Linked DNA regions of Homo sapiens. The protein of the gene in region 4 interacts with the protein of the main gene of each other region in a pairwise test. Each region holds a gene or a part of one and is shown on either strand. Other genes may lie near its edges. The genes, in order: TPM3, FH, MARK1, CCDC102B, C20orf202 and ZBTB32.

Evidence for each region.
Region 1: the proteins of CCDC102B (region 4) and TPM3 interact in a two-hybrid assay, tested with the Homo sapiens proteins (one large-scale study listed by BioGRID).
Region 2: the proteins of CCDC102B (region 4) and FH interact in binary tests that used the Homo sapiens proteins (3 or more experiments, as listed by UniProt).
Region 3: the proteins of CCDC102B (region 4) and MARK1 interact in a two-hybrid assay, tested with the Homo sapiens proteins (one large-scale study listed by BioGRID).
Region 5: the proteins of CCDC102B (region 4) and C20orf202 interact in binary tests that used the Homo sapiens proteins (3 or more experiments, as listed by UniProt).
Region 6: the proteins of CCDC102B (region 4) and ZBTB32 interact in a two-hybrid assay, tested with the Homo sapiens proteins (one large-scale study listed by BioGRID).

Annotation. Positions count from the first base shown.
Region 1 is NC_000001.11:154,174,181-154,179,238, reverse strand, and holds part of TPM3 (tropomyosin alpha-3 chain), read left to right. Parts: intron 1-1,034; exon of another isoform or gene 1,035-1,125; intron 1,126-2,990; coding exon 2,991-3,124; intron 3,125-5,058. UniProt on the Homo sapiens protein: Binds to actin filaments in muscle and non-muscle cells. Plays a central role, in association with the troponin complex, in the calcium dependent regulation of vertebrate striated muscle contraction.
Region 2 is NC_000001.11:241,495,832-241,500,216, forward strand, and holds the end of FH (fumarate hydratase, mitochondrial), read right to left. Parts: intron 2,140-4,385; coding exon 1,997-2,139; 3' UTR 1,772-1,996; downstream 1-1,771. UniProt on the Homo sapiens protein: Catalyzes the reversible stereospecific interconversion of fumarate to L-malate. Experiments in other species have demonstrated that specific isoforms of this protein act in defined pathways and favor one direction over the other.
Region 3 is NC_000001.11:220,649,007-220,654,064, forward strand, and holds part of MARK1 (serine/threonine-protein kinase MARK1), read left to right. Parts: intron 1-1,613; coding exon 1,614-1,714; intron 1,715-2,979; coding exon 2,980-3,144; intron 3,145-4,091; coding exon of another isoform or gene 4,092-4,094; coding exon 4,095-4,346; intron 4,347-5,058. UniProt on the Homo sapiens protein: Serine/threonine-protein kinase. Involved in cell polarity and microtubule dynamics regulation. Phosphorylates DCX, MAP2 and MAP4. Phosphorylates the microtubule-associated protein MAPT/TAU.
Region 4 is NC_000018.10:68,800,012-68,805,069, reverse strand, and holds part of CCDC102B (coiled-coil domain-containing protein 102B), read right to left. Parts: intron 1-5,058. UniProt on the Homo sapiens protein: During interphase, forms fibers at the proximal ends of centrioles to maintain centrosome cohesion. During mitosis, dissociates from the centrosome following phosphorylation to allow centrosome separation. Contributes to CROCC/rootletin filament formation.
Region 5 is NC_000020.11:1,201,400-1,206,993, reverse strand, and holds the start of C20orf202 (uncharacterized protein C20orf202), read right to left. Parts: upstream 3,541-5,594; 5' UTR 3,409-3,540; coding exon 3,343-3,408; intron 126-3,342; coding exon 1-125.
Region 6 is NC_000019.10:35,706,152-35,711,209, reverse strand, and holds part of ZBTB32 (zinc finger and BTB domain-containing protein 32), read right to left. Parts: intron 1-5,058. UniProt on the Homo sapiens protein: DNA-binding protein that binds to the to a 5'-TGTACAGTGT-3' core sequence. May function as a transcriptional transactivator and transcriptional repressor. Probably exerts its repressor effect by preventing GATA3 from binding to DNA.

The DNA.
Region 1 (5,058 bases), on a different chromosome or scaffold from region 4:
TTTGGTGAAGTTTAAATTCCCCAAGGACACGGTATCTCCCTGGGTAATGCATTTGTGAGCACAGTGAACTCAAATAGTCCTTTACTCACAGGGCTCAAGCCTAACTTTCTGATACTCTTTCATTTGAATTTTATCTGTGGCTTTTATCTAATAAGAGAAACCCCAGTGTGGCAGAAAGCCAGATTTAGGCTAATCCCCTTCTGTCCTTGGCCCTGTTCTGCCTGAGAGTACCATCACACTGTCAGTTTCTTGCCTGGAGGGGTTGACATATTTGGGAAATCTCTTTGGAGTGGAGGATAGCCGAAGGTGTTGTCAGCCATCTGGTAATGTGACTGAGTTGCTGGGGCATTCTACTCTTTCCCCAATCCCTCACCCAGGATCTTTGCTTCCTGGGCAGTGGAGAATCCTATTATTACTTGAAGGGAAGAACCACAGAGTACTGTATATCCTCCACACTGGGCAGAGATAGGTCAGCTGAAACACCAAAACCGCATCTGGATGGGCATGCTAAAACCTAAGATGATTAGGAAAGTGCAGAGCTTAACGTTTCCCAGGGCCACAGGTAGCCTGGTCTGCAAAAAGTAGGCCTGTTCAATCTCTTGGTACCCATTGGTATTATTTGACCTGAAAGGGACAGGCACTGTGCATAGACTCATGAGGGAAAAGTCAGCTTGTCTTCCTTGTTCCTTTAAACAAAGTATCAGATCTTGATTCTGCAGGCTTTTGTTTCATTGTAAAGAGAACTGATCCTCTGTGCTAGGAGAAAAGAGAAAGGCAAGGTCCCATTCCCTACCACTCCACCCTGGAGGGGGTCTCTGAAGCTTTTTCTAGGACTCCCATCTCAGGTTCTGCTTTTGATACAGGCTTGTTCATGTGTGCATGCTCTTAGGAGGGCACCAAGATGTGTTTTCCCCCTCTCCCTTTTCAGCCTTGCTAAGAATTCTATTGTAAATGCTGATTTGTGGGAGAAACTGCCTGAGCCAGCTTGCTGTCATGGCAACTGTACACCCCCGCCCCATAGCCTGTTATCTTCTACTCCAGTTTGGGTAACTACTGGTGAGCTGCATGATGTCTTACATTTCATGAGCTTCCTCTAAATCTAGTTGTATTTTTCGTCTGAGGGGGGTAAGTCATTTTACTAGCAGTGTCTCCTAGGTCTTGCCTGATAGCCTGACTTGCTCTTGATCCATGGCCTTGTTGGGTTTGTGAGGAGAAATGTGTGTTGTTACAGAGAACATCTATTTTTCTGGAAGAGGCAGAAGCAGAGAATACTTGTCTTTGTGGTGTTTTGAGTAGTGTAGTTAGAGGCACAAATGGTTTCTTAATGATTTCAGCTTATGTTGACTTCTCGATTTTCTTTGCCTGGTGGCTAGATTGTAGCCCCAGCCCTCTGCTTCCCTTCCTAGTCTCTTCAGCTTCTCATGTTTGTATGTGGAAGTTTTTGTGCCAGTCCTGATGGTTAAAAAGGAGTCTTTTGGTCTATATTCTTCCTCATCGGAGCTAGTGGCCCAGGCTGTTTCTATAGCTGCACCAACTCCTGCCTGCCAGGAAGAAATCAGGGTAATAGAATTCAGGCACAATCTGGGCTATAGAAGAGAGATCGTGTTTACCAGGCACTTGGATAAGCATCTGAACTGGGTGGTGTGCGGGGCATATTAAATTCTTGTATACTGTTGCAGTCAGGGTACCTCCCACCAGTAAAGGTAGCGGGGAGGCAGTCATGGAAAGAGGTTTTCCTACCATTAGAATTTATCCATCCACCTGCAGGCTGCCTCCTTCTTTCCTTGTTTCTTAGAGAAAACCCATCCAGGATGGGTTTACTTGGACTCTAACCTATATACTTCATTGTGAGATGGAGGCCAGGGGGAAGATTGTCGCTGTATTAGAGGGTGAAGCTAAGGGGATGGCTGGAGGAATAGAAAGGAGAAAATTCAGAAATTTGGAGGAATGGTAGTGGGTGTGGTGGAAATGTTCTTTCTTTTTTGTAAAGCTATCAAAGCAGATAATTTTAGCCAGAAGCAGCTCCTTGTAGCCAACTTAAAAAAGGAGTACGGGGGCACAAGTTGAAGGGCTGGTGAGTAGGCATCCCAACAATATTCCATTCTTTTGCTTTCCAGTCTGGAAGGCTATTCTGGAAGACATTCCCTTGGCTAGTTATTCTTCTGATGTGTTAGGGTAAAGTGATCATAGGAATAACGGTTTGAGTTAAGCAGCAATTAATAGGTAATCCAGGATTCCCTCTTTTTTTTTTTTTTTTTTTGAAATGGAGTTTCACCGTGTTGCCCAGGCTGGAGTGTAGTGGCGCAATCTCAGCTCAGTACAACCTCTGCCTCCCGGGTTCAAGGGATTCTTCTGCCTCAGCCTCCCGAGTAGCTGGGACTAGAGGTACGCGCCACCACACCTGGCTAATTTTTGTATTTTTTATTAGAGTCAGGGTTTCACCATATTGGCCAGGCTGGTCTCAAATTCCTGACCTCATGATCCACCCGCCCCAGCCTCCCAGAATACTGGGATTACAGGCATGAGCCACCACACCCAGTCAGGATACCCTCTTTAAGAAACCTTGCTTTTTTTTTTTTTTTTTTCCTGCTTTATGAGACACTTGAAAGGTTACTGAGGATGAGACATGCCTCCAAGCCAGAGCTCAGGCAGAAGGAACCCTTCATTGACTTTCTTTTCTGACTCCAGTGTGTTGAGGAATTTGAACTGAGTCCAGGAAGTGGGTGGTACTAACTCACTGGGCTGGGCAAGGAACTGAGTTTTAAAACACTCTTCCTGTGGAACATATGGGAGTTCGTTGATGGGAAAGGGAGGAAATATATATATATAAAGTTATGTCTGCTAGATCTTTTAACAGCTGAGCTAAGACAAGTTCTACCCTGCGAGACTCTGGCTTTTTCATGGTAGTCAACCCTGATCTTAATGTCATAGTTATTTCTTCTTTTCTCCATGCCTCTGCTTCCCTTGTCCATTCTTTCCTTCAAATGCAGGCTGAGGCTGAGGTGGCCTCCTTGAACCGTAGGATCCAGCTGGTTGAAGAAGAGCTGGACCGTGCTCAGGAGCGCCTGGCCACTGCCCTGCAAAAGCTGGAAGAAGCTGAAAAAGCTGCTGATGAGAGTGAGAGGTGTGTAGGGAAGCCTGATGGAGTGTGGATTTTAAAAGTTCATAATAGTTCTGATCAAGATTTCCTTATAGACCTGTTTTCTAAATAGCAATTCTGGCTGCGTGTGATGGCTCACGCCTGTAATCCCAGCACTTTGGGACGCTGAGGCAGGAGGGTGGCTCAAGCCCAGGAAGTTGGGGCTACAGTGAGCTCTGATTGCGCCACTGCACTCCTGGGTGACAGAGAAAGACCCTGTGTCAATCAGTCAATAAAAATAAAATACTAACTCCATCACACAGGATCTCCTTTCTATTCTGCATATTCTGTCCCCTTGAAGACAGTAAGGGTAACTTAGATGTTGTGACCCTTTTGTAATTGGTATTTCCTTACAAATTGGCCTAATGATCCTTAAAATGGGATCACCAGTATGACTTCTACTTTCTGGATCATAAGCTTCTATTTGTGAGATTAATTTCTCTAAAACAGAGGTTCTCTAAGTAAGGTCTCAGACCAGCAGCATCAGCAATACTTGGGAACTTGGTAAAAATTCACATTCTCAGCTCCTATGCTGATCTGCTGAATCAGAAACTTTGGATGTGGGGCCTGGCAATCTGTTTTTAGTAAGCCTTCTCAACGCTGGTTGCATTATTAGAATCATAGGTAGGGGTGAGGGGGGAAATCACTGGGGAATTTAAAACTGGATGCTTAGATCTCATCCCAGTTCCATTAGAATCAGTTGCAAGAGGGGTCTGGGCATTGATGTTTTTAAAGTTCTCCAGCTAATTTTTTTTTTTTTTTTTTTTTTGAGACAGAGTCTCGCTCTATAGCCCAGGCTGGAGTGCAGTGGCGCAATCTGGGCTCACTGCAAGCTCCGCCTCCCGGGTTCACGCCATTCTCCTGCCTCAGCCTCCCAAGTAGCTGGGACTACAGGTGTCCGCCACCACGCCCGGCTAATTTTTTGTATTTTTAGTAGAGACAGGGTTTCACCGTATTAGCCAGGATGGTCTTGATCTCCTGCCTTTGTGATCCTCCCGCCTCGGCCTCCCAGTGTGCTGGGATTACAGGCGTGAGCCACTGCGCCCGGCCTTCCCCAGCTAATTTTAATGTGTTCCTAGGGTTGAGAACCATGGCCCTTGAAACAAATTATAACTCATGTTTTTGAAAATAGCCAGTTGTCTCCTTGCCACATGTGAGTTAAACTAGAACAGAGGTGCTTGACAACTAAGGGTTTTCAGAATAAATAGTGCCTTTCTAAGGGTACGTTACTACTGTGCAGCTGTGAAAATGAAAGAGGCAGCTATGTGTATACTATTAGAGTAGCATGCAAATTATAGAAAGTGAGGGCCGGGCGCAGTGGCTCACACCTGTAATCCCAGCACTTTGGGAGCCTGAGGTGGACGATCACTTGAGGCCAGGAGTTCAAGACCACCCCAGCCAACACAGCAAAATCCAGTCTCTGGTAAAAGTACAAAAATTAGCCAGGCGTGGTGGGGCGCGCCTGTAATCCCAGCTACTCAGGAGGCTAAGGCACGAGAAGCACTGGAACCCAAGAGGCGGAGGTTGCAGTGAGCCTCCCTCTTTTTTTTGGTCTCAAAAAAAAAAAAAGAAAGAAAGTGAGGATAGCTGCATGCTGAATACCGGGGGGAAAAAAAAGAGTGTGGAAAACAAGTTGCAGAACCGTCTAGTATATTATTACTTTGGGGAAGCTGGGATGGGATTTTTGTGTGTATATATATATATATATATATATATATATATATATATATACACATATATTTAAATAATATTTATTTATTTTTTTGAGACAGAGTCTCACTCTATCCCCTAGGCTGGAGTGCAGTGGCACAATCTCGGCTCACTGCAACCTCCACCTCCCGGGTTCAAGCCATTCTCATGCTTCAGCTTCCCTCAAGTAGCTGGGATTACAGGCGCCTGCCACCACGCCTGACTAATTT
Region 2 (4,385 bases), on a different chromosome or scaffold from region 4:
TAAAGCGGTTTCACTTCACTAACATCACACAAAGATGACTGCCAACTCAAAGGATTCCATGATGCCCTATAATATGCTGGGATACATCAGACAGCTGTGCAAAGACTGTCTGAGGCTAGGAACTTGATCTGCCATAATCTTTATTACATAAGTCACTGTGTCTCTCGTGACCCTCAAATGACAGCCTATTTAGACTGAGAATGCCTGCTAAGGCAAAACATTCAGCATCATAGTGGATAAACTGTTTCACAACTACAGATCAGTTGCCAGTTTGGTTGTCGGGGTCCAGGCATAGCTATGCAGTCTAATTGATTTTATTTTCCAATAAAAATCTTTTTCTAAAAAAAACCAAACAGAATGTGCCAACGGAAAGCATGCTTTGTTTTAAAGCAAGCTACACAAGCATCATCGCATCGCCCTCTGAAAAACACTGGCAGAAACAGTATTGCATGAGCTAAAAAGTAGATCCTATAGGTTCTCTATAGTTCAGTTTTTAAAGTTTGAACAGCCTTTTAATAGTGACCATTCACGCTTAAGAAATTAGAAAAATATAAATTTCATCTTTCATCACAATGTTTCTAGAACTTTTTAAATTACGCTTTTAAATTCTATATAAAGCAACTACTTCAAACTACGACAGAGGAGTTGGTGTTAATGTGACTGATTTCCCAAGAATATTAGGGGGTAAATATCCCATTTTTTAAAATGTACCTGATAGAGTAATACTTACAGATGAGATGTTTTAGTTAATGAGAGTTCCTCTTATGATCCTGTTATTTATTACACGAGGTAGAAGAAAAAATAGAACAAATGCCTGTTCCGACTCCCTGCATAGTAGAGGTTGGCTCTATTTTAAATACATTCCTTAGCTTTGGATTTGGGTCACCCTATTCTGCATCTCCCTATAACTGCTAATTCAAAATCCCCTAAGGTTGTTTCAAATGAATTTCTGCTGAAGAATCTCAGCACTTGAGATGATGAACAAGACTCACTTTCAGGACATCTTTCCTTTCCTTCCCATCTTCCTGCCTGCTCCCTTTATCTTTCTAACCCTTGTCCTGTAATTCTTAACCCAGTCTTTTTGTTGTTTTTTTTCTTTTGAGACAGGGTCTCACTCTGTCACCTAGGCTGGAGTGTAGGGGTGCAATCTTGGCTCACTGCAGCCTCAACTTCCTGGGCTCAAGGAATCCTACCACCTTAGCTTCCTGAGTAGCTGGGATTACAGGCACACACTACCAAGCCTGCCTAATTTTTGTTTTATTTTTTGTAGAGATAGGGATCTCATTATGCTGCCCAGGCTGGTCTCAAACTCCTAGGCTCAAATGATCTTTCTGCCTCAGTTTCCCAAAGCGCAGTCTCCTAAAGTCGGTGTCCCTGACCCACCATGCCTGGCCTTGATCTGGTCCCTCTGTGGTAACAGAAACAAGGTTGGAGGGATAGGTGTGTGTTTAACACACAGGATATGTATGTCCCAATTTTCTTAACCTATTCTATCACACACACACACGTGCGTGCACACACACACACACATATACACATCCCCACTCAAAAGGGCTTGGTCACTGTGTCTCCAAATCAAAGGAAAATAAAAGATGGCTAAGGACATAGTTTGGGAATGAGATAATAAGATATAATCGGGCAATTTTTTAAACCACCAATAACCTCCAAAATTAAAACCCTTTAGAAATTGGTAACTTATGAAGTCACAAAGACAACATGCACAAATATCATAGATTCAACTATAATACAAGTCAATTAACATAGGAGAAAATTTAAGTCTGTTTTCCTTTTTATTTTATAAATGTATTTTATTTTATACTTGTTTAATCCATCTTAGACCTAGCACATCCTAGGGTTTTATATACTGATCAAATTGCTCTGCTAGAGATGCTTAAGTTCAATAGCAGTTTCCTTTCAAACTTATCCGTTTTTAAGAAATGGGAGTCTGTTTTTTTAAATTTTATACATGTTTATTTTCATTATAAATTTATGTAAATCACTTTGGACCCAGCATGTCCTTAGGTTTTACCCATTCGTCAAACTGCTCTGCTGTGAGATAGCCAAGTTCGATAGCAGTTTCCTTTAAGGTTGATCCATTTTTGTGTGCTGTCTTAGCAATCTTTGCTGCCTTGTCATACCCTGAAGAAAAAATAAAAAGACGACATATGGGTTAGCAGTGATATTTGGTTTCCTAAAGCAAAAGGTGACATAATTGTTTACTTGATATTGATGCTATATGGGCCTCTTAAATGACATTTTTTGTTTTTAAATTAGTTAACAGTGATTATCTCAATAATCATTTTTTATGTAGAACATTTACTTTCCTTAAGAAATAAACACTTAAACATACCTCACTTTCTCCAACAGATTTGTTCCTAAGTTGAAATTTTCCAGTAACTTAGATATTTTGAAGGGGAAAAAAGTAGAAATTATAGCACCACGACATAAAAATATACATCTGGGTATATTTTTCAAACAACATGTTTAACTAGAAACAATTATCTTTCTAAAGAAACATTAACAAGCTAAATGCTCCAGTCCAGCAGAAAATAAAGCACTGCACGTCTGGCAACTGTGGTGAGTGGCTCTGAGAGGGGAGAAGTCCTCGCAGTGAGGCAGGCGCAGGCAGGGCCTGGGGAGGGGTGCCTCCAGAGCTGCTTCCAATGGCTCTTCTCTATGTGGCTCTCCACTGCAATGGCTTCTATACCCTGGCCTCCTCCCAGACATTACAGGGACACAAATAGGGAGTCTGGGCAGAAATACAGACTGCACAAAAGATCACAGGCATACTGTTTACTTCAGAGTTATTTGCTTTTCAAATTAATAAAAGTGGGGGCAGGGCAGTTCTGCAAGCTGTCTTAACATATATATATATATATATATATATATATATATATATATATATATATATGTCAAGAAGAAAAAGCAGGAATGAAAATGAAACCAATGCGGGAGAAAAAAAACAAGATCAGAGAAATATGACCAAAAGGAAGAAGCTTGCTGAGGCAGTATACATCATCAATAAGATGGCATGTGTCAATATGCAATTATTAATCAGCTATAAAAGAAAGCATGGGCATAGTTACTTTTATTACTTAACTGAATTTGTGAATGCTAAATATGTTGAAAAGGGCATTTATTGATCTGAAAGGGCATTTATTGATGCCATTTACTGAAAAGGGCATCTTTCTTAAAGCAGAAATGCTTTGAGAAAGAATTTGCATGTTAAACTCTTGAGATCAATATATATCCAGTACTTTTATTTTAATAATGGCTTTAAAGTCTAAGCATTTCAGCTGTCAAGTCCAACAAGACACTATTGGCAACCAGCCTGGTACATAATGAGAATATAGGGAACCCATGATTCAGAGGGTTGTAAGGCTCACACCAAGTCAACTAGTGAGGTGGTGTTGACCCATCTCATTCTCATATGGCCTCTAACAATTCTTTTTATGTCACAATAAGTTGATTCCAATAAAGATTTGCCAATCATTCAACTTTAGGAGACACCTCTAATTTAAAGTTTTGGTAACACATTCTGAAGTAAAGATCTGATGAAAACTGCTCACACGAGCCTCTGGGTTCCCCTTTGTGTTTTTCCAGATGTAGTTGATGTACCATAATTTTAAATGGATCAAACATTATTACCAATCTCAATGCCACACCAAAAAACTGATATCATACTGGGCTCAGAGCTACCTAAAAGAGTCAAATGAGCTCTAATTTTAAAAAACTGTAATTATAGCTTGATGTGAAACCAGGAATATAAAATTTGCCTTGAAAGTTCAAGATTATAGAAGAAGCAGTAGCCATATTATGCCAAATAAGTGAATCATAACTTGTTCTATAACAGAAAGGCAGAAAATATATTAACCTCTGCTTAGCAGAAAGGAAGAATGGGTAAAAGGCTTTTAACACATCATAATATAATGCAACATAATGCCTCAAAATCTACAAAAGTGTAAACAGTTTATTTAATGGAGATCTCTATGGTCAGTCTACTACCCAAATCTGTATGTTTGATTCTACATAATGAAATATTTACAGTTCCAAAAAAGACTTATAATACAATAGCATGGTTTTAGACAAAATATTTGCATTTTCCTTCCTCCCTTTCACTATAAGCAATGAATACATAAACTTTTTCTTTTAATTGTAACTTTCCATTTCTGAATTGAATAAAACAACAAAATTAAAGCATTGTAGAGATCTAGGGAAGGTAGAAAAATGAGTTCATTCAATGTTGCTAATCAGCAGTGCCACCTAGTGACATTACCCACTGAAGGTCTTACAAATAACCTTCCCCAATGGTCTGCATAGAATATTTGGCGTCTGAATTCCATTAAAATCAAAATAAGTTTGAACTACTACTTCTCGATACATTT
Region 3 (5,058 bases), on a different chromosome or scaffold from region 4:
GTACAGTTGCATAGGCTACAGCTGTAAAACTTTAGTATCACTTGATGTGGATAGATGTTAATGACATGTTAAATGGGAAAGCAGGTAATGAAACAATTTCTTTCAAACTGTGAAATACGGATGACATTTCTAGTTTTTTGAGAACTTTTGTGTAAGTTAGTTTCATAATGCGTCTGCATAATCGAATCAATTTTCTTTGCCTTAATAACATGGACCAAGTCTTTTTTTTTTTTGGGGGACAGGATTTCACTCTGTTGCCCAGGCTGGAGTGCAGTGATGCAATCACAGCTCACTGTATTCTTCTCAAGTTCTTGGGCTCAGGTAATCCTCCCACTTAAGCCTCTCGAGTAGCTGGGACTACAGGTGTGTGCCATCACACTCAGCTAATTTTTTTGTATTTTTTGTGGAGATGGGGTTTTGCCATGTTGCCTAGGCTGGTCTTGAACTCCTAGCCTCAAATGATCTGCCCTCCTAGGCCTCCCAAAGTGTTAGGATTAGAGGCATGAGCCATCACAATTGGCCTACATGTTCCAAGTCTTACCTAAACATTTTAATAATCTTAGCCTGTTTTGCTACCATACTTTTATAGTTTTTAGCATATGCTTTTTATATAACTGGTGACAAAATTCCTTCCATCTAGGAACCTGCACTACTGAAAAATTTTAAATCTGTATTCAGTTTTGTTTATATGAGTTTTTTTCCTTCTTCAAAGTGAATTCAAGCAAGTATCTATTAAGTTTGTAGCCCTCATGATTCAACAATGTTTAGGTTGCTTATATATTTTAAATGCTGGGTTAGTCAAAAGTAGCAAAAATTTTTGTTCTGTTGGGTAAGGATTAAACAGAAGAGTATTATATCCACATTGAAAATCATTTCTGTATATTTTATTACTGGTGAGTAGTCAAGGATTTGGCAGGCACAACAGTGGGTTACAGGTCAAAGGTTGTGTGCATGGTAAGGAGAATTACCTGCCTATCCCTTTTTGCTTATTTTCTCTCTTCTCTCCAAGGCTCCTCAGACTTGGCCTGCCTTCTAGCTCAAACCTGAGACTCGAGGAAATATCTTCAGGGTGGCACTGCACACACCACTGTTGGTGGCCTCAGCTGGACATGCCTTTGATCCTGGGGCATTTAGTCTGCTTAATATTCCTGGTGGTTGAGAGAGTTTCCCAAGCAGGTGAAGAAAGGCAGCCCACTGGCTTCTGAGTGGGCATGCCATCTTCACTGCCCGAGGCTCCTGTTGGTGATGATACTTAGTGTGGAGTTGGCTTGCACTCCTTGTTACTTAGAGCTGCTCACACCCCTGCTCCTGCCCTTTCTCTACCACCAGCTCACAAAGGAGGGAGTGAATAGAAACCCAGCTCTCCTATTGCTTCCAAACTGCTGGCTGCTATTATAGGAGGATAAGCTAAAACTGTAATGAGTTCATTTTTGATGCTTTGTCTTTTACTTCTGAAATCTAAATTAGAGAGAGGCAGGGGATAATCTTGTTAATATAAGATTCTGATCAATTAAAATTCTGTGGATTTTTCTCAAAGTCAGCTTAAATACATTTCTTTGGCTTTCCACAAATATATTTATAATTTTTTAATTGCCTTTTTTTTATTCTTGAAGAACAATGTGTATTCTGGAGGTAGCATGGCAAGAAGGAATACATATGTCTGTGAAAGGACCACAGATCGATACGTAGCATTGCAGAATGGAAAAGACAGCAGGTAAATGCCACAGTGCCAAGTAGTAATACCTTTGCTGTTGTTCTGTGTTAGTGCCCTTGCTGAAATGCCTGCAGCCGAATGGGTCAGGAGAAAAGCAGTTATTACATGAAATAGTAAGATTGCAACCAACCGTTCTTAGTAAGACATCTTTCCTGTACCAGGATAGAAGGATGGGAAAACATTTAGAGAAAACAAGAAACAAATCTCTTTACCTGCCAATTTCTGAGTAAAATCTGATAGTAAATATTTTTCTATAACAAAGCAGATCATACCATCCTAATTTCATCTTCATAATTTGAATCTTATTCTCTTATGCACCTGCTGCCTCCTTCCCTTTCACTTCCCATCAAGTCATTGCTGTATCTCAATAAAGGCTTTATTTTTCTCCCTCTGAAAAAAATGTGACCATCTTATTTCTCATCATTCAGAACCACATAATTTTTAAAGTGTTTTATTTCAAATAATAATAAATCATATTATTTTTATTACTTAAAAGATGTGTCTTCTTTCTATCATGAGTCACAAGGACTACTCATCAATATAGTACAAAGACATGGAGCCTATTCTAATGAAATTATTTTCTTAGTACCACCTTCAGTCATTTCAGTAGTGTGTACAACCCATTCTCACATTTGTTTCTTCTCACTTAATAAGAATGTAAAGTAAGTGCTATTGTAAGGCATACAAAGAAAAATGTATCTTCTTTGGACATAAGATAATTGGAAATTGATTTCAGACTTATGATTTTTCCTATACTAAATTTTAATCTGCAGCTCCTTTAATCTGCAACAGTTAACCTATTGACTCATAATATGATCTAAAAGTGTTTTGATGAATCTAGAGATAATATTTTTGGTATAATTATCAATTCTGATTGTATGAATAATGGACAATGAACTACAGCAACATATCACACCAAACTGTGACTTTGGGGAAGTAAAAAATGACTCCAGTCATAATAATTTTATCTGAAACTATCGTATATCCACAAAAATAATTTTGTACTTTCTCACATTTACATACATAGTGTGTGTGAGATTTTTTTCATAGATGATAGTGATAAATTCACCCTGTATACTTTTCATAAGAATATTAATTGTTTTGTTAGTCATTAATAATGCCACTAATGTTAGTTTCTTTCAAATGTTTCAGTCATGAAAGGTGTTAGTCAGTTTAGATTTTTTAAAATATAGTTCTTAAATTTTAGTAAACCACAAATTTTCCTCTTTTTTTCCATGGTCTTCTCAACTGCTTTATGGTGAAAGCCTTACGGAGATGTCTGTGAGTAGCATATCTTCTGCAGGCTCTTCTGTGGCCTCTGCTGTCCCCTCAGCACGACCCCGCCACCAGAAGTCCATGTCCACTTCTGGTCATCCTATTAAAGTCACACTGCCAACCATTAAAGACGGCTCTGAAGCTTACCGGCCTGGGTAATGTGTTGGTTACATCTCATTTTGTTCATTAAGAGTTTCTAAAAATATAGCACCATGTGAAAATACATGATAGTCACCATCACATTAAGACCTTTCTAATAAGATTCAGTGTTTGTTATGGAGGAAAAATTGAATTGTAACATAAACTTTCTATGTACTTTGGCTGTTATTGGAAATGTTGCATATAACTTAAATCATTTTCTAGAGGAATTTTTTTAAGGATTTGATTTTACATCCGTCTATAAAGTTAAAAATTGCTGTTTAATTTGTCATTTAGGTAAATTGATTTTTTTATTATTTAAACCATACGAACAAACACTAGACTGTGAGTTGAGACCCGCAGATAATGATCAGGCTCAATTCCTTGTTCTTAATAAAACCAGGCTTCAGTTTTCCTGTCAATGAAACTGATGAACTCAAAGAGCCTGTTCAGATATAAAATTGTATAATTGTTTTTCTAGTATTTTTCTATTTTAAGATTTCCCAAATTCAGTACATCTGAACATTTTAACCCTCTGTTAGATTTGTTAGGCATATTGGTGGTGCCATGTGGTATTGTAGCATCACTGAGGCCTAAATTAGAAATAGGAAATTATTTTATTCAAAGCCTTTTTAATAAACAATAAAATTTGTGTTCAACATTGCTAAGTGGTTTCAGGAGAATATTAAAAAAATATTTGCAGTACTCCTGGTTTGGCATTCCTGATACTGAAAAGTATTTATCTTTGTGTCCCTGTTTCAGTCATTTCTTGATTTTTAGTGACCAAACAAAAGGTACCTAATTTCAAACTGAAATTTTACTCCAAACCCATGTCTCACATCTCTAATGTGAACAAATAAAGTAGGGCCAAAAGAAGTAGCCATAGCTATTTGTTTCAAGTTTTTAGCTTGAGTGAAAGGTTTTCTTGTCATTATTCTGAATGATATATCTTAATTTGTCCCAGCAGTACAACCCAGAGAGTGCCTGCTGCTTCCCCATCTGCTCACAGTATTAGTACTGCGACTCCAGACCGGACCCGTTTTCCCCGAGGGAGCTCAAGCCGAAGCACTTTCCATGGTGAACAGCTCCGGGAGCGACGCAGCGTTGCTTATAATGGGCCACCTGCTTCACCATCCCATGAAACGGGTGCATTTGCACATGCCAGAAGGGGAACGTCAACTGGTATAATAAGCAAAATCACATCCAAATTTGTTCGCAGGTCAGTACCAATGTACTGTCGTGTTTTGATTCCTCTAGAAATTATAAAGGAAACTAGACTTTTTAAAAAAATCTTTATAATAATTTTCTAAAATGGTTTCATAACATTTCATTAGAGCTGCTCTTTTACAGAGTTGGAAGAAAAAAATCTAGGAAGACATAAAGTATTTTTCCTTAAGAGAGAGAAAGGAAAAAATGGACAAAATGAGATTTTAAAAATCTGTAAAATAAAATGGAAAGAACAAAGACTTAACTTCAAAAATGTGTGTTTTAACAAAAGATTATTTTATATTTAAAAGCCTTGATTGAGGAAAAGAAATGAGTTTACATGTTTCCTTCAAATTTATCTTGACAATACTTTTAAATTGCTTACTAATAATATATAATTTACATTTTTTTCTTCTTGCATAAAAAGCCTACACACCAGAGTCACAGATCACTTATGCAATTTTACATCATAAAACCTTATCATCAAAACATAGTAAACACAAAATGAATACATGTATAGTAAAGGTCTAATCTACTTAAACAATACAATTATACTTTCTAAAAAGTAAGCATACTTACTATGCTTACTATGCATACGTGTACAGTGCACATTGATGATACAAGTTGCTACTACAATGCAGGCTGATGTGGATTTCATCTATTCCTGGTCCCACTAAATGCCTACTTAAGCCCTGCGACAGACAAAGCACTGTGTTAGGTGCAGA
Region 4 (5,058 bases):
GTTTTTATAGAGAATTACTCCACGTTCTTAACACCAAACTTCCCATTTGTATGCTCTATCTAATTTCCTCTAATCCGCTCCAGGACATGGCCTCCTCAAATATACTCCTCTCCTGTTTAACTAGTTTGTACCTCTCTCTAGATTAGATTATTCCCATTAGCAAATGCACATGCTATAATACCCTCAACATAAAAAAAAAAAAAAAGATTTTGATCCCAACCCAGCAGCCATTCCATATCTTTGGCATTTTCTAAAATAAAAATTATTTTAAAGACACTTTCATTTATCTCATTTTCTCTTGAAGTCGCAGTATCATTTTCAACTCTAGTTTGCCACAAAAACAGGAAATCAGTGACTTCTACATTGCAAATCTAATGGTCAATTCCAGGCCTGAAATTCCTGTTTTACTTGGCCAACCAGAAGCCCTGTATGTGATTGTCCATTTCATCATTCCCTTTCTTGGCTTCTGAGGGCATCCTCTCTCATGGTTCTCCTCCTACTCCCTGGTAGCTGCCCCACATTCTGTCTCAGCTTCACACCTCTGACTGCAAGCGCTCCAACACTGAGACTTCAGGCTGGGGTAATTGCTCTGGGTGAAGGCATCCAGGCCTTTGACTTCAAATTCATTAATTTTCTGAAATTTCCTAACAGACATATCTCTGGCCTGAGATGTTCCTTTATCTCTGGGATCTCACGTGTCCAGCTGCCCACTTAACATCACTAAGGATATCTAATCAGCATCTCAGATTTCACATGTTCAAAAACAAACACTTGAACTCCCCTCACATCTACACCTGCTCCTCCACAGTGTTCCCTGTGTCAATAAATGCACATTTCACTCTTCTAGGTTTACAGACCAAACTTAGGGGTTACCCTTGATTCCTTTGTCTCTTCATTGCACATCATTGTTGGAAACTCCATCAGTTCTGGCAGGAAAATATGAAATACAGCCTATGCAGAATTACAAAAACTCCATCTCTAATATCTCCTTCAAACCACCCTGTCTCTTGCCTGGAATACTGTATGGTATCTGGCCTCCCCACTTCTACCTTTTCCCTACTCCAGTATGTTCTCCACAGCACAGCCGAGTGGATGCTTTGAACACTCAACTTATGTTACAATATTTCTAGGATCCCAACATTCAAATGACTTCCCATCAAACTCAGAATAAAGTGGTTGTAGTTTATGATGTTGTCATGATCTAAACATAAACCATCCCTGAACTCTTCATCAGGACCCATGATTTCCCGACCTGAGGCTCCTACAGTTGGGGTATGAAGAGCCCTTTTAAAAGTAAAATAATATTAGGTTGGTGACCATGTAATTGTGATTTTTCCCATTGAAAGTAATGGCAAAAAATGCAATTACTTTTGCACCACCCTAATATCTTGAAGCTTAAGCTGGATTTACTTCCTCTTAAAGTAGCTTCTGCCTGTGCCTCCCTGCCTCGCTCATTCCCAGCAGCTGCCGGCCATCTGGCCATTCCTTGAAGGGACATTCTTCTGACTTAAGACTTTAGCACATGTGATTTCCTTTATACTTCTCTTCTGCCAAGATTCCTCGTGGTTAAGTATCTTACATCCTTCACCCTAACAGAAGGGACATTCCCTGGTTATTTCAAGAGTGTGTAAATATTCTATTCCCTTTTAGCCTGAATGTTCTTTTTTTCTTCCAGTACTTATCATGACTTAATATATATTTATATACTATGTATGGATTCTACTGCTTTACCAGCTAGACTATATGCTTAATGTAAAGAAAGGGGTTTTACTTTTTATTCACATCTCTATTTCCATTGCTAGAACAGTGTCTGAGACATGGTAGACATTTATTACTAAATGGACAAATCTAAAACAGAGTGACTTAGAACTATTCCTTTTCTTCCAAAAGGCAAGCATTACAAGTTCCACTAAATAAGTCAGTCTTCTCTAAAGAAGGTGGCTTTTAGATATTAAACGCTTATAGGCTTTTAAAATTAATAAAGAAACAGTTTTAAGTGAGGTTAACCCCAATCACACCACTTTAATTGCTATCAGCAACTTCATTCTTCCAAGTACTTAAATAATTCACAAATACACCTATGATGATTATCTGTATATACAAAAGATGAAGATTTACATTTATTTGGCCAGAAATACTTTTGAAACAGCGTGGAAAGTGGATAGGATATTTGGGAGAACAAAGCCATGTATCCCTTTCAGAGATAAGAGGACCAAGGGGTTTCAAAAGAATCAGCAGATGGGAGGTGGAGTTTGTCTTCTGCACTATTTCTACTTCTGATATCGTTTTGGATAAAGATCTATGCTTCTCGAATATGTCATTTATATTAATTCAGATAAACATCCTGCTCAATAATATGGAAGAAACTTATAGCCACAGAGGAAACAATGACGGCCAACCATAGACAATGAATGGACCATGTGAGGTCCAGGACCAGAGCTTTGCATTCAGTACCTATGCTTAGGCCCCAGCCTTCTGTGAGAAGCCTGTATCTGAGATAGCCCTCCTAGTTCTAATCCATGAATACTGGAATTTCTCCCATTAATCTACATTATCAGGTCAAATTTATTTAGTCCTGATACCAAAAACATAAAATATAAAAACATATCAAAAACATAAAAGCCAGCAAGTAAATTCATATAGCATTAACACCTTTAGAGGGCACTTGTAGCACGACATAATTGCAACATCCATGTTTTTAATCCATGCAATCATAAATTCTATAACTTAAGTTTCATTATTACAAAAAGAATGAAGAAGCCTGGGCAGTATCAAAAATAGGATGGCAGGGACTCTACGTAGTTGCTTTGACCCAACTCATTCCTACCATTGACAATACCTGTAAAGTGATTTCCAAACAAAGATAGAACAAAGCTCACCTGAACCCTCAGACAATCCCTGAGATTATTCTAGCTCCAAATTAGGAACAGGTTATAACCAGAACCTTCTAGAATTATATGAAACACCAATGGATTATGGCACTTCCACATCTTTCTCTTTTTTCCTGTGCTACCAAATGTTATAATCCCACTGAGCACCTTATAATTTTCATGTTTTATTGTGAAATACATTTTCTTCTCATCCAGAGAAGAAACGCTTGTTCAAAACCCTTCATGTCAAAAGAAGATAGAAAATTCATGAATATAGGCTGACTAATAAGACTATTTGATCTTTTGCAGAGGTCATAAATGTAATCTTTCACCTAATGCCTTCACAATCCTAAATTCACTAAGGGAGGAAAGGAAAGATTGTATGAAAGACTCTCAAAACTATTTCCAAATGAAAATGAGTCTAAAGTTGCTACAGGTTTTTCTTCATGCAACTATTGCCTCTTTACCTGTGTTATATTTCCAAACGTTTACTGCAGCTTAGAAACATATGCTCCCGAGTCAGTGACTAAAAATCTCACTTTTATTTTTGGAAACTTTAATTCTACAAATTTGAAACAGACACTATGATAAGATATATTTATAAATTCTTCAGTGAGCATATGTTTTTTTTCTCAATATTAAGGACACCTTTTTCTTTAGCTACTAAAAAAATCCTTCTATCAAAATTTTAACATCAAATATTTTAATATATTTATGACACACAACAGCAATTCTTTTAGGAAATATCATTAAATATAAATCAACTTGGATAATATTTAAGTATATAATAATGTTAACAGTCCTTTGCAAAGCTATGACTACAATTAAATGGCCTTGAGCACAACCTCCAATACAATATCTAGTTTTCCATTTTACAATCAAGGTCTCAAGCTCACAATCTCCATTGAGCATCTACAATTAGTCAGGGCACTGAGGATGGAGCACTAGTTATACAAAATGTCTTCTATAGAATATATTCTTAGAATGCAACCTAAACCTGTACAAAAATAAAATCTCAAGGTCAGTGACCAAATCTTTGCATTTCAACTATCCTCATCTGTTTTCGTGTACGGCAAAAAGATACTCCTTCAGTAAAGCCTACTTAATGATAGTATGATTCTAAACTAGTAGGCAGTATGTTCATAAAATGATAGCATAGTTACCATCATGTATACATTGAACAAAAAAACCTCGTTGTTATGAAATAAGCTATAATTTTTATTTCATTGAAAAAAAAGAAGAAGAAAATGAATGTTATCCCAGATACTAGTTCTACTTTGAGAAGAAGTAATGTCTTTAAGGTTTGGATATATGAAGGAAAACATGTTAATAAATAAGTTCTATTCTTTTTTACTGTGAATGTACTGTATTTCACACTATCTATTACAATGTGAATTTTATTTATGCTTTTCACCTATTGAAATGAAACTTATACAATGCCTTTATTTGATAATAACTTGGTCATTCCATAGTTTTAAGAGTATTTGGTCGCTGAGTGTTCGTTGATACCATGTATCAAAAAGAAACAGAGGAAAGTCAGTACATCCCCAGTGTTATTCCTGGCCACCTCACACATCTCATTTGTGAATAGGTAATATTCAGTGCAAATCAGTGATGACATTTTCTTTGAGAATGCAAAAGATACCTTCTCTAAGTAGATTTAAGAAAATGTAAGAGAGAGAAAAGCATAAGTGTTGAATCTGAGGGCCGCTAATTTAAATGTAAAAATTACCCCTTATTTGCAGCGTCAGTCTCTTCTCTCAATTCCCAAAGGAAAAGTGTGGCCCAACTGATAGAACAGTAATTCGTCTGGATTTATAGAATATCGGAATGGATCTTTGGGCTGTTGTCTCACGACCTCCTCCCTGCACCCTAAAATCCCAGTGTCCACTTCAAACCATTCTGCTCGACTTCTGCCAGATTCACATTCCTAGAATACCAGCACAACATCGTGGAAATAGCTCTGGAGCCAGAAAGACATTATTTGAAATTCTGGTTCCCTCACTTTCTTTATCTGTGGCTTTAAGCAAATCATTGAACGTTTCTGAACAGCAGGTTCCTTCAAGTGCAAAATGAAAATAATGTGTAAAATAATGTTCATTTTCTTGCAAAGCTATCAAAATTGTGGATATGTATGTAAATCACCTTGCAAGCAGAAAATGCTATTATGTGTTGGCAAAATGATGAT
Region 5 (5,594 bases), on a different chromosome or scaffold from region 4:
GGGGATGTCCCTCCGCTGGACCTGGCGTCCTCCCAGTGGGCGCTGTCCGCACGCAGCTCCTCCAGGACACTGTGAAGATGCCTCAGTGTGAGCAGGAGACTCTGATCTTGAATCTGCATCTCAGACTAGGAGAGAGAAGGAGCCTGTGAGGGGATGCGTGGAGCCCTGGATGTTTCCCCATCAAGCCCCTTCCCTCGCTGTCTCATCGGAGACCAGCCCACTTGTGATTCGCACAGCCTCACAGAAGCCGTATCCACCAATGCCTCAGTTTCTTGCTCTGCAAAGCAGAAAGCAAATTGCTTACTTTTCAAGGCTTTCATGAGGACTGAATGAATTTGCCCATGGGAAAATCCTTTCAAGGGGTCAGCGAGGTCAAAACTACTTTGGTTACAATAGTAAGACGTTATTTTCCTTTTTTTGCTTTCATTTTCTTATGAGCATACCATGGAGTTTTCCAGAAGCTAATGACATGTAATGTCTCAACAGACTGAATGCAGGAAGCAGCTATGAGAATCCAGCTGTGTTCTATTAAGACAGACATTAAAGCAATTTGCAACAATGTAAAATGGGGCTACTCTTCCCACTAAATATTTGCTTTGAAAAATATAGTTATTTTGAATAAGTAATGTTTTATTAACATATTATGAATTTGTTATTATTTTAGAATGCATTAGTAAATATATTAAAAATGTCTCAGCTTTGGCTTCTAATTCAGTCAGTATTGTTATATATAACTCACGTAAACAAAAGCTTTTTGGTGGCCTTAATAATTTTTTGGGGCATAAAGGGTTCCTAAGACCCAAAAGTTTGAGAACTGCTGCATTAGAACTCTCCTGTCATCTTCAGCCATCTCCATTCTTTCTCCCATTTTTTCCTGAGAATTTTTTCCCATACATTTTCTCTCTTTTTCTTTCTGTTTATTTATTTATTTATTTATTTTTGAGGCGGGGTCTCACTGTGTTGCCCAGGCTGGAGTGCAGTGGTGCAATAACGGCTCACTGCAGCCTCGAGCTCCTGGGTTCAACTGATCCTCCCACCTCAGCCTCCCGAGTAGCTGGGACTCCAGGTGCACACCACCATGCCCGGCTATTTTTTGTAGAGGCAATGTCTTGCCATGTTGCCCAGGCTGGTCTCAGACTCCTGGGCTCACGCGATCCTCTCAACTCAGCTCCCAAAGTTCGCTTTCTCTTTAAAAATGTTAAAATTCTATTTTTTGACTAAGTAATTCTTAACACATGATAGAAAATTTAAAAGCTACAAAAGGACATATATTTAAAAGTCTCTCCCACCCACCTCACTTTATCCCTCAACTCAAGCGTCCTTCTCCAGAGGCAGCCACTGCAAATGCTTCTGTTTTTCCTTCCAAAGCTGGTCGGGGCAACACATGGTTAGATATACAGATTCTCAGCCTCTCTCTTTCTCTGTCTCTCTTTGCAAGAGATACTTATGAACATTATTTCCCCACTAAAAATAGTGTTTTCATTTTTGTGACAAGCTGATTACAAGTAAGAAGACCAAGTCTGCATCCTCTACTCAAGCATGAGTAACACTGCCAAGAGAATATGTAGCTAGAAAGAGAGATGTGAGGCCAGGCCCAGTGGCTCCCACCTGTAATCCCAGCACTTTGAGAGGCCGAGGTGGGCAGATTGCCTGAGGTCAGGAGTTCAAGACCAGCCTGGCCAACATGGTGAAACCCGGTCTCTACTAAAAATACAAAAAAATTAGCCAGCCGTGGTGGCATGCGCCTGTAATCCCAGCTACTAGGGAGGCCGAGGCAGGGGAATCACTTGAACCCAGGAGGCGGAGGTTGTAGTGAGCCGAGATCGTGCCACTACACTCCAGCCTGGGCGACAGAGTGAGGCTTCATCTCAAAAAAAAAAAAAAAAAGGAAAGACGTGAAGCAAAGGTGTAGTCGGCCTCCCTCAGAACACTGGGACGACTCAGGCTGCAGAGCGAGTGGTCCTGGGCCCATTTTTTCCTAATTCCTCAGAAAACATTCACTCTGTGTTTTCTCGATTTTAGGGTTTTCCTCCTGCACATATTTCTGGGTATGCGCCTACAAGACCACAGTGGGGTTCCCAGCACGGAGGTGGTGATGAGGCATCCAGGCACCCACAGTTTCAGGGAGCATAAGGAAGACAGCTGCCCAGTGCTGGATGCCTGCTGACTGTGGGAAGCTGCAGTCCCTGCTGCTGGAATTCCCTGGTCCCATGAGAAACCCTACTGGGTCAGCCCTTCCTCTGGGGTGATGACAGGGTTGGGTCCCAGCTGGCCTGTTGCCTGGCAACCCAGAAAGGTCATTTTTGGACAATCCTGTCTGTCTCTCCCCAGGATGAGAGGTGTGTATATTGAGAAACAAACCTCTTCTGAGGTTCCCTGAGCTGCCTCCTCTCTCCTGGCTGGTGTCCCCACACACTTGGGGGCACCCCTCTTTTTTCGGACTTGGAGAAAATACCATAATGAAAGGCATAAGCCTGGCTTCCTGAGCAGCAACCACAGGACCAAGTAACATAACATCGGGTCAGGAGAGTTAGTGCTCCATGGGGGAGGCCCTTGCCAATGGGAAATGAGAGACAGGAACGAGCTGGGCAGATGAATTTCCTCTCGTTCTCTCTCCCCCAATGTGCAGTTCCTCCTTCAACCCCTGCAGAGCATCTCAGCTGCTGAGACACCCACTGGGCCTCCTTAAGGCAACTTCTGAAGCCGTAGGCTGCTTGGTAATACAATGTCTGGCGTAATTGCCTGGCATAGCATTGGCCTCTGCTGCCACACCCTATGTTCCTCCCTATCACCACCCTTGGCTTGTACTTCCAAATAAAGTGCTAGTTTCTCAATCCTTGTCCAAGCCTCTGCTTTCTAGGGGACCCAGGCTAAGACATTGGGTGTACGCATGTCCATCTGGGTCAGGGTTATAATAGCCAGCACCACGGTGCCAAGTATTCATTAAGAGGATTACAAGCATCTCTTCAGTGAATCCTTACAATACCCCATATGATATTGGTACTATTGTTATTCCCATTTTGTGATAAGGAAACTGAGGCTCAAAGAGATAAATCCCCTGCTAGAGCCACACAGAGGACTCAGCACACACGGAGGACTCAGTGTCATTCTAAAACCAGTCTGGCCAGCACCACACCCAGCACCTCCCATATAGGCCACGACCTACTTATCCCTGAACCTGAGATCACAATTGTGCATTGTGTGGTAGGTCCCAGAGGGGAGACTGCAGGGTCCATACCGTAGCCTGCAGCCTCTGCCCCAGGGGGGACCCGGGAAGGAAAACCAGAGATCTTTGGAAAATATGTAGTCGGGGCATCAAGGAAAAGCAATGCAAAACCTTACCAGCTCCTTTCTCAGCCACTCCAAGGTCTGCCCAAGACTCGGGCTGGGCTCTTCTGCTATTTTCATCTCAGTGTTCTTAGGAGTGACCTTGACACTGACCTGGTTCTGGGCCCGAGGGATCTTTGACTTGTACATTCCCCCAACTCTTTCAGACTGGCAGCAGGTTCTGGCCAAATCACTGAAGATGGAGTTAATGAGAGCAGGAAGTAGCTCACATTGAAAAATGTAATCTGGCTTTTTTTTTTTTTTTAAAGGGCTTTAGTGCTCTGAACAGAACAAGGAGGAAGGGAGGGAGACCATTATGGGTCCGAGTACCTTGGAGCCTGCTGTTCCAGAAGCCAAGAATATGTGATGCCAACAGGATCACAGAGAATGCAAAGCTTTAAATGGCAACAATATGGTTATTATGAAAATAGGCACTCTTTTCTAAGGGTTTGCTTTGTGCTTTACATATAAACTATGTATATGTCTCATTTGGCATATACCTCCACGGGTGTCCCAAGTCCCTGTCCTCATTTACTTATCTATAGAGTCCAGATAAAGGAAATGCTCACTTTCCAAGTTTCCTTGTTTCTGGAATCCCCATGTGACCCATTTCCAGCAAATGAGATCAAAGCAGCAATTTGCTGTTAGGCTTCCAGAAAAACTTTTACCTTCCTAACAAAAGGGAAAATGTCACTGCTGCTTCCCTTTTACTCCTACTTTCTCCCTTTTCCTTCTGCCTTGAATGTGGATGTAATGTCTGGAGCTATGGTAACTGTCTTGCGACCATAAGACAAAGCCCAAGAAAATCACAGAGCCATTAGAAATCATTGCACCCCTGACTCGGCAACAGCATCTATATGAGAAAACAGACCCGATGTCTAATGGAACACTCTGCTACTTGCAGGCAAACACAGTCCTGACACACCATTTATTCTTCCCATTGTTATAGGAAAGGGGTCCCAACCCAGACCCCAAGGGAGGGTTCTTGGATCTCATGCAATAAAGAATTCAGGGGGAGTCCATACAGTAAAATGAAAGCAAGTTTATTAGGAAAGTAAAGGAATAAAAGAATGGCTACTCCATAGATAAAGCAGCCTTGAGGGCTGCTGGTTGCCCATTTTTATGGTTATTTTTTGATGATCTGCTAAACAAGGGGTAGATTATTCATGTCTCCCCTTTTTAGACCATATAGGGTAACTTCCTGATGTTGTCATCGCATCTGTAACCTGTCATGGCGCTGGTGGGAGTGTAGCAGTGAGGATGACCAGAGGTCACTCTTGTGGCCATCTTGGTTTTGGTGAGATTTAGCCACTTTCTTTACTGCAATTGTTTTATCAGCAAGGTCTTTACGACCTGTATCTTGTGTTGATCTCATCCTGTGACTTAGAATGCCTTAACCATCTGGGAATGCAGCCCAGTGGGTCTCATCCTCATTTTACCCAGCCCCTATTCAAGATGGAGTTACTCTGGTTCAAATGCCACTGACATCATCACACCGTGAAGCAGGTATTCAATTCTCTCTTTCGCTAAACACTTATTGAATGTCTACTGTGTGCCGAGTTCTGCTCTAGACACTGGGGTTATCAACCAAAATCAGAGAAACAAAGGCCCTGCTTTCCTGGAGCTGACATCCTAGTAGTCATTGGAAACAAACAATCAAATTAATGCTACGATGAAAATATGTAGACTCTATTCTCACATAGGTCTTTTAAAATATAAATTTATTGGGCAGGCGTGATGGCTCACGCCTGTAATACCAGCACTTTGGGAGGCCGAGGTGGGCGGATCACCTGAGGCCAGGAGTTCGAGACCAGCCTGGCTAAACATGGTGAAACCCCGTCTCTACTAAAAATACAAAAATTAGCCGGGTGTGGTTGTGGGCGCCTGTAATCCCAGCTACTCAGGAGGCTGGAGCAGGAGAATTTCTTGAACCCAGGAGGCGGAGGTTGCAGTGAACTGAGACTGCAAATGTATATATATAAATTTATTCTATTCACATGCACTAGAAACTCCAAACCAAGAATTAGCATAGTGACCCCAGATAAAGATGTGAAATGACTGGCAAAGCAAACTCAGCCGAGTTTAGGGAAACTTGCCCTCAATCTGGCTACACAAAATATCCTCAGATAGAGCTCCCCTGAAGATGAACTCATATAAGAACACACAAGGAAGCCATTCACCATAAATGAGAGTCAACAGACACCATTCACCCCCTTCCCCCAAGAACTTCAGATGAAGATAATTAAAAGTATTTTGAGGCCAGGTAT
Region 6 (5,058 bases), on a different chromosome or scaffold from region 4:
CTCTGAGTGTGGCCCCCTCGCTTTCCAGCCCCACATCATGTGCTTGTGACTCAGCTCCCCCGCTGGTTTGCTCATTGATGATCGAGAGAGTTGGAGACTGCTCAAAGGGCAGCATTCTGTGTAAGCCAAATATAGTTGACAGGGAGCATCAGTGGGCTTTCGGGGAACCTAAAAGGGAGGAGGGGCAAGGGAACTCCCCTTTCAGTGAACAAAAGCCCCCAAGAATGGGGAACCCCACCTAAGGATATCCCCTTAGAGACCGCCTCCTAGAATTATCTCCAGGGCCCTTTGCACTGCAACCCTTATGCTGATGACACCCTGAGCACTTCTCTAGCCTCTTCCTGCATTCTTGACAGTGCAACCCAAGCCATCCTGCACTGAGCACAGATGGCAGAAGCAGACAGCACTTTGACTTGGAAGAGTAGGGACACTGCTGGTGCTGTTTTGTTTTTATTTTGAGACAGAGTCTTGTTCTGTCACCCAAGCTGGAGTGCAGTGGCGCCATCTCGGCTCACTGCAACCTCTGCCTCTGGGTTCAAGCGACTCTTGTGCCTCAGCCTTCCAAGTATCTGGGGTTACGGGCATGCACCATCACACCCGGCTAATTTTTTTGTATTTTTAGTAGAGATGGGGTTTCACCATGTTAGCCAGGCTGGTCTCGAACTCCTAACCTCAGGTGATCCACTGCTGGGATTACAGGTGTGAGCCACCATGCCTGGTCTGTTGCTGTTCTTAAAAGTACTCCCCCTCCCTAGACTCAAAAACCTTGCCCCCCCTTCCTCTTCCTGGGCTGACTCGGTAGGAATCATCTGCAGTTGTCTCTCTGGAAAGAGCAAAGAAACAACAGGTTATGCAGACACAAGCCTGTGTCCTGCCAGAGGGTAGAGCAGGTAGAGAGATTAGGTAGGGCATGATTGGAAGGGGAGTATGTGATAAAAGGCAATATGATATCAGCCTCTCAGTCCTTTTTAATACTTATATTACTTTCTTTTTTTTTTTGAGACAGAGTTTCACTCTTGTTGCCCAGGCTGGAGTACAATGGCGCTATCTTGGCTCACTGCAACCTCCGCCTCCCGGTTCAAGCAATTCTCCTGCCTCAGCCTCCCAAGTAGCTGGGATTACAGGCAACTGCTACCATGCCTGACTAATTTTTTGTATTTTTATTAGAGATGGTGTTTCACCATGTTGGCCAGGCTGGTCTCAAATTCTTGATGTCAGGTGATCCACCCACCTCGGCTTCACAAAGTGCTGGGATTACAGGCGTGAGCCTACATGCCCGGCCTAATACTCGTATTACTGAATAAAATTTGAAATCTGATTTTTTTTTTTTTGAGACAGAGTCTTGCTCTATTGCCCAGGCTGGAGTGCAGTGGCGCAATCTCGGCTCACTGTAACCTCCGCCTCCTGGGTTCAAGTGATTCTCCTGCCTCAGCCTCCCGAGTAGCTGGGATCACAGGTGTGCATCACCAAACCCGGCTAATTTTTTGTATTTTTAGTAGAGACAGGGTTTCACCATGTTGGCCAGGCTGGTCTCGAACTCCTGACCTCATGATCTGCCCGCCTTGGCATCCCAAAATGCTGTGATACAGGCATGAGGCACCACGCCTGGCCTGAAATCTGATAGTTCTTATTCTTACTGGTAGACTTGACCAATGGGACACTAAGGGAAAAATGTGCAAGGGGCTCGGGGCACACCCTGGCTGCAAAGTCAAAGCTTCCCAGAAATCCTTGTATCATGAACTTCTTGAGGCACAACCCAGCTTGATGTAACAATGTCAACACAGCAACACAAATACCAATTCTCCTTAAATATTATAATTAAAATCAAACCATCAGAATAGACCAATGGGAGGGATGATCATTTGTTTTGTGAAAAAGTTCTCCCTCTATTTCACTTATTTTAAATATCAAGCCCTCTTCCCAAGCCAAGTTGAACAAGATTCAATTTAGAAAAATTCTGTGAACTCGCCACTCTTCCCGTGAACCCATCTCTTTCCACAAATGAAGGTGGTTAAATTCCCCACAGCATTTTATATAGATTAAGAGCGATTATCCAAATCTTACATGAACTTTAAGTATGTTTACTCTTTCGCCAGGCGCAGTGGCTCACACCTGTAATCCCAGCACTCTGGGAGGTGGAGGCAAGCGGATCATCTGAGGTCGGGAGTTCAAGACCAGCCTGACCAACATGGAGAAACCCTGTCTCTACAAAAAATAAAAAAAATTAGCTGGGCGTGGCGGCACATGCCTGTAATTCCAGCTACTCGAGAGGCTGAGGCAGGAGAATCGCTTCAACCCGGGAGGTGGAGGTTGCGGTGAGCCGAGATCGCGCCATTGCACTCTAGCCTGAGCAACAAGAGCGAAACTCTGTCTCAAAAAAAAAAAAAGAAAAAAGAAAAAAGAAAAAAAAGATGTTCCGTCTTTCTGGTTAAGTACATCCAAGACTTCCAGAAAAGAGTCACCACAAGGAGTGAATTAGTTCCCTTTTTCCCTTAAATTTGTGCTCTATATGATCCAAGAACCAGCTATAGTCATACCCAGGTGAGCTGAATCTAGCCCCTTCATAGCACACACTTTGTGGATTAACTGGAAAAAGAACTAGACTAGAAGTTGGAAAACAGGTTTCACTGCATCCCTTCACAGTGAATGGCCCTTCTCTTCAGCACTCATATGGAGCTAAGTCTTCCAAGACCCTCAATTTCCTCACAGGGGCTGTTTCAAGACCAGTACAGAATACTAGTGTTGACTTAAACCTGGGCAAAGGGTCCCATTTGGACCTCCTCTGGCTGTATCCCTTCGCATAGGCTGAGTCAAAAGGCATCTAGAAAGTGCCTACCCGGAACTGTGAGCTCCCACCTCACTTCTGGACCATGCTCTGAGAACTCAGCACCCTGGATTTCCTGGACCAAATGACTCTGAGGCCCCCTACACAGGACTCAACCCCAGGCCTGTATTCATGAGAGTGGACTCTGACTGATGTACACACACGCTAGACCCTGATTTTGTGTAAGGGATTTGTAGACTGAGCTTGGATGTGCAGGCTAGAATGTGAGACACCTTGAAGTATGGGCCAACACCAGGCATGGGAAGAGACGAGGGAGTCTCTGTCATCTTGCCCAGGCCCCATAAATAATATAGGAACCTACTTTATTCCAATGGTTCTAAATCTCTTAGGGAGTCACCATCAGGTTCAGAATGTCACCCATGGGACTAACTCTTCTTTTTATTGAGACAGAGTCTCCTTCTGTCACCCAGACTGGAGTGCAGTGGCACGATCTTGGCTCAGTGCAACCTCTGCCTCCCAGGTTCAAGAGATTCTCCTGCCTCAGCCTCCTGAGTAGCTGGGACTACAGGCACGCACCACGACACCCGGCTAATTTTTGTATTTTTAGTAGAGATGAGGTTTTACCATGTTGGCCAGGCTGGTCTCAAACTTCTGACCTCAAGTGATCCACCCGCCTCAGCCTCCCAGAGTGCAGGGATTACAAGTGTGAGCCACCCAGCCTGGGACCAATTGTTGACATTAGAAAATGGTAGACACAGGCCGGGTGCGGTGGCTCACGCCTGTAATCCCAGCACTTTGGGAGGCCGAGGTGGGCGGATCACAAGGTGAAGAGATAGAGACCGTCCTGGCCAACATGGTGAAATGCCGTCTCTACTAAAAATACAAAAATTAGCTGGGCGTGGTGGCACGTGCCTGTAATCCCAGCTACTTGGGAGGCTGAGGCAGGAGAATTGCTTAAACCCGGGAGGCGGAGGTTGCAGTGAGCCAAGATCACACCACTGCACTCCAGCCTGGTAACAGAGCTAAGACTCCATCTCGAAAAAAAAAAAAAAAAAGAAAATGGTAGACACTTATACCACTTGGCATATGAATGCATGACAAGAGATTGACAGATTACTCTGAGCCTCATGGCTGGAGAGGTTAACTATCGTCTAGCTTATTCTTTACCCTCCCCTCCTCATAATATACATGCATACCATTAATTGTTCTTTTTTTTTTTTTTTTTTTTTAGAGACACAGTCTTGCTCTGTCACCCAGCCTGGAGTGCAGTGGCACAATCATGGCTCACTGCAGTCTTGACATCCTGGGCTCAAGTCATCCCCCTATCTCAGCCTCCTGAGTAGCTGGGATTACAGGCATGTGCCATCATGCTTGGTGGCTGTCTGCCGAGCTGGGATTAACTGCACACTTCATGTGCCAGCACCCCGGGCCCCCACCACACCATAGAGGGAATGGCCAATTGAGCTGCCCCAATATTAACTGGTTTCGGGGTTAGACTTCCTTGAAGTCCACTCATAAGCCACTCCTTGCACCCTCACCCCTGGTTAAAGAACTCTGGGTGTACTGAAGGCACTCCGAAAGCATAAATACCACTGAACAGCTGAATGAAACTAGGTATCAACACCCTGCCCCATGAGTATAAAAAAGATCATCAGTAAAGACAACCTGGGTGATTTCCTTTATGTTATTTACTTATTTATTTTTGAGACAGAGTTTTGCCCTTGTTGCCCAGGCTGGAGTGCAGTGGCGCGATCTCGGCTCACTGCAACCTCTGCCTCCTGGGTTCAAGTGATTCTCCTACCTCAGGCTCCTAAGTAGCTGGGATTACAGGCATCTACCATGCCCGGCTAATTTTTTGCATTTTTAGTAGAGATGGGGTTTCACCACGTTGGCCAGGCTGGTCTTGAACTCCTGACCTCAGGTGATCCACCTGCCTCGGCCTCCCAAAGTGCTAGGATTACAGGTGTGAGCCACCACGCCCTGCCAAAAACCTGGGTGATTTCCTAAAGAGGAGAATATCTCACACACCTCTTCCTGTGCTCCACTACGATGTTCATCCTCCCCATGCACCTGCCCCGCACCTACAGCCTGATATCTTCATCTTCTAGGAATTATCAGAACAGGCATGGGAAAGAGTGGGACAGGGAGAATGAAAAGCTCCAGACATGACCCAATTCCAGTTTTTTTTTTTTTTTTGAGATGGAGTTTCGCTCTTGTTGCCCAGGCTGGAGTGCAATGGCACGATCTCGGCTCACCGCAACCTCCGCCTCCCA